Homo sapiens: one gene and its partner. The protein of the gene in region 2 purifies or fractionates together with the protein of the main gene of each other region. This does not show direct contact. Each region holds a gene or a part of one and is shown on either strand. Other genes may lie near its edges.

Region 1 (3,722 bases), on a different chromosome or scaffold from region 2:
TTTTAGAACAAAAGTGTAATTAAATGAGAAGCTTTGAGCTATACTCTATCTCATAAGTAGCATAATATTTCATTTGACTCTCTCTCTCTCTCTTTCTTTTTTATTTTTATGAGACATAGTCTCGCTGTGTTGCCCAGGCTAGAGTGCAGCGGCATGATCTCGGCTCACTGCAACCTCCGCCTCCGCGGTTCAAGCAATTCTCGTGCCCCAGCTGCCCAAGTAGCCAGGGTTAGAAGGCGTTCACCACCATGCTCGGCTAATTTTTGTATTTTTAGTGGAGACAGTGTTTAGCCATGTTGGTCAGGCTGGCCTCAACCTCCTAGCCTGAAGTGATCTGCCCACCTCGGCCTCCCAAAGTGCTGGCATTACAGGCATGAGCCACCACATCCAACCTCATTTGACTCTCCTGACAGTCTGGGAAGTTTAAGCAGGGAACCCAGCTGCAACTATCTAATGAATAATGGACAGTTTAGCATCTTAACTAATAAGGAATCTTGGGCTTAAGATATTCCCAACTTTATTACTGGGTTGTGACTAAGTTTCCTCTCCCACTTCCCCCCAACAAAAGGCTATATATACTCTATTAGCTTTTATATTTAAATGAAGGCAGATTGATTTTTTTTAAAAGACATTGAAGACACCCCTCAAACAAATGGAAGCACTCTGGGTTTTGGTAAAGCTGGTGTTAATCATATCTTTAGCTTCTTAACAAGGGGAAGAAATTACTTGTGGGCACTTTGGGTTTTTTTGTGCCATCAGTAATCCCCAGGGGAAAATGATACGTATATGTTTTTCCACAATCAGTTCAGGATACCAGGATATTAATGGTATACCTAAATCAACATACCAACAAACTAGCTAATGAGGTATTAATAGTATACCTATTAATAGGTAAACAGAAGTAAAATCATGTACCAACAAAACAAAGCAGTGATTGTTTAGAGAGGTGAATGGGATTTGTGCTAATTTGTAAAGTGTACTACCTTAGGCAAGCACTAGAAACAAATATTGAACACCTTAATATTTAGTTGTATATCAACTTACAGTTTACAAAGTTTTCCATACACAGGATCTCATTTGATTATTATAAAATCCCTAGGAATTAAGCAGGGCAGATATCATTATCTCAGTTGTTTACAAGTACATAAACAAGCTTACCAAAGTCAGGTAACTGTCCTGGGGATCACACAGCTAGAGAGTGGCTGGGATGTTTTAAAATTCAGATCTTGGTGAAGACAGATTCTGCGTTTTAACTCATGTAAAAGCAGAGACTGGCAGAGTTTACAACGTAGTATAATCTCACTGATTATTTGCTGAAGGTATGAATGTGTCTTGTGAGGCTATTTCAGAGTTCTTTCTAGTATACTATATAAGCCCACCCCAAAAAAACAAACTAAACAACTGAAGCCAAGTATGGAAGGTTGGGGATGGGATAAGGGGCAGGAATTATTCCCAGGAGGACTAGGAAATTCTAGACAAGGCAGCAGCTTCTGGAAATGTCAGTGTTTATTAAACATTTAAGGACATTTGGAGGTTTGAGAAGAAATATACAGAATGTAGAAAAATCCTAAGAATCCCCTGTGGCTGCAGTGCAGCCTCTTCCTCCCCCCCGCCCCCCCATTTCCCATTTGTTTTTCCTGCTTTTTGTTTGGTTGTTTAAAAACCATTTCTTAAGGCTCATTTGCCCCCTCCCCCACTCCCTGACCTATGAGGATCCATTCTCTCTCTCTGTCTCTCTCCTCAAGACCTGGAGTCCCAGAACAGTGCTCCAAAGTGGTCAGGGGGAACCAATGCTATACTGAAGTGTGAGGATCAGGGGCCCCTCTACTTGGGCTGGCTCTTCATTAAGGACTTAAGGGGGGCGTGAATTGCAAAAGCCACATGACGTCATTGGTCCTCAGTCATGGGTGTAAGGGCAGAGGATGAGCACAGGTAAACAAACAAAGAATGGATTAAAAAATAAAAAATAATAACCTAAATAAACCCTGAAGGAGAGTCTGATCTGGGTGCTCTGGGTATTAGCTGGGGGGACAGAGTATGGAGCTGGGCCACCTGGTAGAGGGGAGGGAGGGACGGGAGAGGAAACAGCCAGGGGGACAGGCTGGGGGATGCAGGAGATGGGAATGCCAGGTGGCCTGGACTTGAGGCAGAGGGTATCAAAGTCCCTTTCTTCTCAGTGCTCAGGTGGACAGGCACCAAACACACAGCCCCCGGGGCAGGTGAGGGGTAGGATTAGCTCCTGGGCTCCCAGAAAGCCAGGGGTGAAGGTGGGGGAGAATACAATTGCCTGGGGAATGAATTCTGGAATGAAACTTACATCTCAAAGGGAGGTGAGGGCAGGGCAGGGCGGGGGAGCAAAGAGGGAAAGCACCTAGACGGGGGTAAGAGGAGCCTAGGTCCCCCTGCTCTGGCAGGGCCTGGGGTGGGGGGGTGGCGATCACTTGTCCGAGTTCAGGCCCATCATGTTCTTGAGGGCGTTTTTGAGGCTGGTTCTGCTGGGGGACTTGACAGCAGGCCGGAGCTCCGGGCTCTGCTCATCCTTTCGTAGCTCCATCTCGATGACCATCACCTTTGGGCCTTTGGCGGACTCCACCCCTAACCCCCGATCCCCCGCCCGGCCCGCTAACCGCTATTTCTTATCCTTGCGAGACTCCCCCAGCCCCTTGGCCTTCTTCTCACTGACAGCTTTGGTGCTTCTGCTGTGGTCCAGCATTGCATACAGCACTGGCGTCTGGGGGAGGGGCGCACACATCAGTCACCGAGCGACTGGGGCTTGACTGTTCCCATCCCACCCCTCACTGCTGCCCGGCGGCTCCCAGGGTTCTCCTTCCCATCTTGTCTAGGCCCCAAGTCCCGCTAACCTGCCGCCCGCGCTTCGACGCGTCCTTTCCTGGCTTGTGCAATTTCCCCTTCTCCATAGCACTGCAAGAAGAGAGACTGCTGTACGTTTGGCCTCGCCGGAACCCCTTGCACCGCGGACACAGCTTCCTCTTCCCCTTGGCCCTCCCACCCACTGGAGTAGTCTCCGCCCAGATGGGGGATAGTGGGGAGAGGGGGAGGGGAGCTAGGCTCCGCCCCTTACCTGAGCCTCCTCTGCAGGGCCGCCTGCCTGCGTAGCCAGCAGTACCGAACCACGTAGAAAAGCAGCAGCAGCAACAGCACCACCCCGAGGACACCCCCGATCACAGCTCCCAGAACGACCCCGTACCTAGTTGGCACTAGGAGGGGTGGGAAAAGAAGTGGGAGAATGAGCAGGGCCCTGTATCTGTGGTTCCTAGTCCGAGTGTATGCCCTGCATTGAGGATGTAGGACTCCCAGCTAAAACTGCCTTCTGCCCACGCTCCCAGAGCCTGAATAAAGGTCCTTAGGCCGGGCTTTTTGCCTCTTCCCCCAACCTATCAGTCCTCCCTGATCCCCTCCCAAACTGCTTCCCATACCCTTGTCCCCATCCCTTCTCACACCTTTTTCAAAGACATACAGCGTGACCTGAGAGGTCTTGCCCACTATGTCTGGAGGGTTTTTGACGTCACAAGTGAACGTGCCATTGTCACTGTAGTCTAGGTTGTGTATGACAATGGAGCCATCCTTCCAGCGAGGGTCCCCTACCCACTGGATGCGCTCTTTGAAGGTCCCCACCTCGTCAATGTAGGGTTGTCCCTTGGCATAGTGGAAGATCTATGAGGAATGAGGGGAAGCATGTGAGAGGACCCTAATGAGAACAC
Region 2 (5,478 bases):
ATGAAAATAGTGAAGCAAGAGTGGATTAGTAAATATACTTAAATCGCAATACCTAGGAGAAGAGTGTTTGGCTGAACTGAAATACTTTTAACACACAGTGCAGTTACATGAGTGACTTAAGGGTTCTTATCTCTGGACTTTGAGTTTTGGCCTAAAATGATGTAATGATGTTGCTAAAAAGACATTGTTAAAGAACTTAAAGCCGAAACAGCTCAGCAGGATGAATGAAGATGAAGGTACTGGCTATCCCAAGGAGCCCATTCAACAGCAGCTTACCTCTTCTCAGCTCCATATTTTCAATGTGACTGGGTCTTATAGTACAGGCTTGTATTCATCACAGATGTTTGGAACTTCAGAATAATACATGGTGCAAATTTGCATTTACCTTCCATTGTAAATCAGTTCCAATAAAAGATAATATAAAAGGCAGAGCTTCTGCCTTGGATTTTGTGTTCTTTAAATTTTTTGGTGCATTCTGTCTTTAAAATATAAGAAGTACCTCACTATATTCAGTGTAACACTCAACCGTCCCTGTCATGAGCTGGGTGACCTTGGTCATTCATTTATCCTCTGGTGGGCTCAAATTATTCATCAGTAAAATAACGAGCCTGTACAAATAAAATGTAATTTTTTTCACATCAGATGGGTAACGTGCCAAATCATAACAAGGTTTGAGCGAGGCACATCTCACACATGGGCATGAAAACCCAATCATCGCTTATGAAACTAACATTTCAATAGAAATACATTATGAAAGTTCTGGTTCTAAATCCATATTATCTTGAGGGCATATCCACTGATGCAATGGATATGATCATTATTTGATTTGATATCAAACTAAAACGAGTGAGAAAAAAAAAAAGAAACCCCAGAATATGTTACAGTTGTTTTTATTCCAACTGAAAATTGAGTAAGGGTAACTCTTCACTTTAACGTACCTAGAAATGATATCTCCTTGCATAATTAGTCATTTAACAGAGCCAGCAACCATCCAGGAGCTTGGCTTGGTGTCATAAGACATGTGTAAGTAGCAAAGCACTGTCTGGTTTTGAAATCTCAAAACCATGAGTATTGAAATGTTGTATTTGAGTGTTTAATGAGAAGTGGTTAATCATTTACTTCCTTTTTTCAGGAAAGGGGAACTCTCTGTCTTCTAGACAAGGTCACCAACATCTAACCTTGGGCTGTGTCTTCCCATACAACCCTATTTACGTCAACCTTCCAATGACTGCTCCTGGGGACAGAGTGGTGAAATGGTACCATGGGCATTCTGACAACCAACTCAGAGAAGAGATGCTACATCCTTTGCCCTCTCAGAGGGTCAGAATTGAGAACATCTCCCAGTACCTAGACATACTCTGGTACATATGAAGTTTGTGATCTATGAATTTGGACCACAGAATCCACCACTACATCTAGCTCTTACTTCTCTCCAATGCCCTGCTGGTTCAGTCAACAGTAAGTCAACAGACAGACATGTAAGAGCTAATGTAAGATGCTAGGCAGAATGCAAGATGTAAGATGTAAGATGTAAGATGTAAGCATGTAAGATGCTAGGCAGAATCCAGAGACAAAGTTGGAAGATGTCACCCTGTGTAACAGAAGTTTCTAGGACTCTGCACACTATGCATATTAATAACGTATTTAAAGAGGGAACTTGAAGACAGTTTAGGCAGGAGATTAAGGAGACCTCTCATGTGTTTTCATGTGTTGTCATAGCCCCATGTTTGGAAATGACAATATGTGACACAAGAGTGTCAAAATGAAGACACCAGAGGATGACAACAGTCAATCAAAGCCCAGTAGAATCTAGGAACTGGAAGCAAGGAAGGTGAGAATTTGTCAGTGTGGCTTCATCACTACCTATTGGTGGAAGACACATACCTGATAACTACTTTGCTAGTTCTTAGCACATCAGGGCCATTTTCTGGAGGCATAATGTAATCTACAGAAACAGCTCTCAAGCCTGACCTTTGCTCTACAGATAGCCTCAGTATTCACCTCTGATTATGTGTCCAGATTGCAGTTTCATTCCTGTTGATACGCCTGGCTTGGGTGGGGACCTTCCTTCCAGATCCTCTAAGTTCTCTTTCATATGCATCTCATTCCAGGGAGAAGGGGAGAGTTCTAAGTCCCAAGTTCTAAGACACATACAGGTACACACCCACACATACAAGCACCCACCCTCACTTTATGGAAAGCATCCAGTGGGGAGACTCATGAACATCAGTCATTCTGAGGCCACATCCTTCTACTAAACTAATCATTCCGCAGACTTGGATGCACCCCGCTTCCACATGGACTTTACCATCCACAACTTACCAGCAAGAATTTGGAAGATTCCAGTGATGTAAAACCTGCCCCCCTTGGTGAGGGTGAAGAGTTGGCAGAAGAACAGGAACAGAGACAGAATGCTGAAGATGATCGACAGGATCATGGTGGCCTGGACAGACTGCAGCCATTCTGGGGGAAAGAGACACTTGGTTAGGAGAGCTGGCCATGGCCGGGGGAGGGCTCTGCCTCGAGGTGCAGGGCCTGAAGGGCCATGACTGCTGACAGCACAGTCCTCACAGGCAGCAGAAGCAGAAGTCCTTTTTCCTTAGCAGAACTCAGACAATTCACTTTTGCAATCTAAGAAGACATTCTTTATTGTTTATTTTGGAGGAAAAAATATATACATATATACATACATCTATATGTACTGATATATACATATACAAACACACACATGTGCCAATATGTACACATTACATACATATATACCTATATGTACAAATATGCATACAAATATGTACGTGTTTCTATATATATGTGTATATACACATATACAAATACGTGACACACACATATATATAAAAAACACATGTGAACATTCAGGGAAGGGCTGTAAAAAAATATCTATAGTTCCATCACTAGGAGTTAAAGTCATTTTAAAATATATTGAATTTCCTTCCAGTGTTGGTGCAAATGTGTTACTTATGTACATGTGTCTGTGTTAAAGAGGGCCTGAGCCCTGCCTACTACCTTCCCTCTTCTTGCCCTCAGGGGTCTTTGAAGGGCTTATCAGAACTTCTGTATTCCAAGAAAAATAGCTTAAAACCACTATTCAAATTATCTGCATTCCCCAAGGAGAGGTAAAGATCACGGGAATGGCTGTTAGAGCCCAAAGTAATTTTTTGGAAGAATGGAAGAAAATACTGATGAAGAAAGGTATGCTCTCTATAGGTATGGAAATCAATTTGCTTGGACAACCCGTATTTTTTTTTTTTTTTTTTTTTGGTCAACTCTGATCATGGCCATTAGCCTCAGCACAGAGCGGTGTGTGATCGCCAACCACCAGACGGGATGAAGGCTTACACTTCCTTATCTCTGTTGAACCCCAAATCTCCAAGCTTCCAACTGAAATTCAGGCAAGAAGACAGAGCCTCCTATGGTTTCTTCAGTTCACCATCCGCTGCAAACTCATGTCATTTCAGGGAGGAAAGAAGAAACAACCTGAGTTCCACACTGTAGAGGGAAGCCCAGGGTAAAAATCTGCATTTGGCCTCTGTCTTGTCTTCCAAGTGCCACAGAATGCTGGGGGCAGGCACTGCTCTCATGGAGGAAGGGCAACTGGGGAAGCTGCAGCATTTAATCCTTTCAGCTCAGTAACTGCCATATGTAATGGCTTCAAAAGCATACCTTCAATGCTTCACCCAGTACTCACAGCTCTGAAATCTGGATGGTTTATAATTAGTAACTGAGTAAGATAAACTTGTTTTGAGTTGTAAGCAGCTCATGGCAGAATTTTAAGGGTGCAAATTAGGTTAACTGTTCCTAGATTTTCACCTAAGATGTTTCCAAGGCACAGACTGGAGATATTTTAGAGTTGGAAGAAACCTGAGAGATCAACTAGTCCAGCTCCTTTGCACTGAAAGAGATTTCCAGAGGTGTTTTCATGAGCCCAAATGACACAGCCAAATCTAAGAGGCCTTTGATTCTAGTCTAGCACTCTTCACATTCAAGCACAACATATGCTTCTTTCATTTTTTCAATTTCTTTGTCAATTAAAGTAAGAAAATGACGGCTAATGGGTTGTGAGCCATCCTGATTTCACTCTTACATAACCTTAATCAAATGTTTGTCTTTATCCAGCATAGAGGTTCTTCTGGAGGAGCACTTTGCAATAAAGATAATGTTCTCATAATATTGTTTGCTTAAAATAAAAAAATTATCTAGCACTTTGGTAGATGCAGCTGGAATTACAAAGAAATCTGAGACTCAAATCTGAAACTAAAACAAATAAAGGGATTCACTTTGGCTGGGAAATGTCCTTCCATGTGCATGTTCATGAGGAGTATGGCTGGTGGAGACAATATCTTAGATTTCCTTCTCCAATCCTGAGATACTGTCTTCACCCTTAACCCCGCGCCCCTGTCATTTTCAGCAGAAACTACTACGAGACCTCACATACACAGAAAACTTAAAATCTTTATATGTTAAATCTATATAAACAGAAAGTGTCTAATATTTAATAATATAACCTAAATACTTCTTGAAACATCTTTCAACATTAACTTGAATTTTAGTCCCAACCCCATTACAATTGAGCTCTTTGCCATAAGTTATTTCTCGAATCAAATCAGAATTAGAGGATCAAGGACATTTTTATTCAATGAGCATTTGTTGAATACCTACTGCTTTGAGCCAAGCCCTCTGGTTGACTCTGATGATCCAGAGATGAAGAAGATGGTTTTCAACCATAAGCACAATAAATAAAACACATGCATTAAGATAGTAAGTCTATCATCAACCACATTATATGTGAATGGGTTCAAGGCACTCATAAGATATGGAATTTTATCTTTGATTAAGACATTTTGGGAGGCTGAGGCAGGTAGATCACTTGAGGCCAGGAGTTCAAGACCAGCCTGGCCAACATGCCAAAACCCCATCTCTACGAAAAATACAAAAAAATTGGCCAGGTGTGCTGGTGGACACCTATAGTCCCAGCTACTTGGGAGGTTGAGGCAGAGAATCGCTTGAACTCAGGAGGTGGAGGTTGTAGTGAGCCAAGATCACACCACTGCACTCCAGCCTGGGCACAGAGAGAGACTCTGTCTCAAAAAAAAAAAAAAAAAAAAAAAAGAGAGACATTGTAGCTATATTCTAATATAATAGATACACCTAAAACAAGCAACAGTCAAAAACAAAAAAGATTCTGAAAAGAAGCTTCAGGCAAATGTTAACAAAAAAGAAAGAAGATAAATTAATAATAAAAAATAGAACTTATGTTGAAAGGATAAAAGTGGCCAGAGAGTTGTTTGGTTGTTTCATAGAGGAAAGATTTGGTTTATTTGATCTTTACTTCTGGTTTACATGATCTATGACTGAAGAAAATAAATCATTATGCATATAATAACATGGCCTGAAAAAGTTAAAATCAAAAAGTAATCAAAATATGAGAAGAAATTGTTAAAATCACAATAACAGTAGAAG

The links. Proteins that work in one complex are often made in the same cells at the same time.
Region 1: the proteins of PMP22 (region 2) and MPZ purify together in Homo sapiens (affinity purification with western blotting; one study listed by BioGRID). This does not show direct contact.

What each region holds. Positions count from the first base shown.
Region 1 is NC_000001.11:161,303,247-161,306,968, forward strand, and holds the end of MPZ (myelin protein P0 isoform MPZ precursor), read right to left. Parts: intron 3,676-3,722; coding exon 3,462-3,675; intron 3,219-3,461; coding exon 3,083-3,218; intron 2,923-3,082; coding exon 2,862-2,922; intron 2,732-2,861; coding exon 2,630-2,731; coding exon of another isoform or gene 2,438-2,629; 3' UTR 1,489-2,437; downstream 1-1,488. UniProt on the Homo sapiens protein: Is an adhesion molecule necessary for normal myelination in the peripheral nervous system. It mediates adhesion between adjacent myelin wraps and ultimately drives myelin compaction.
Region 2 is NC_000017.11:15,237,149-15,242,626, forward strand, and holds part of PMP22 (peripheral myelin protein 22), read right to left. Parts: intron 2,464-5,478; coding exon 2,323-2,463; intron 734-2,322; exon of another isoform or gene 637-733; intron 1-636. UniProt on the Homo sapiens protein: Might be involved in growth regulation, and in myelinization in the peripheral nervous system.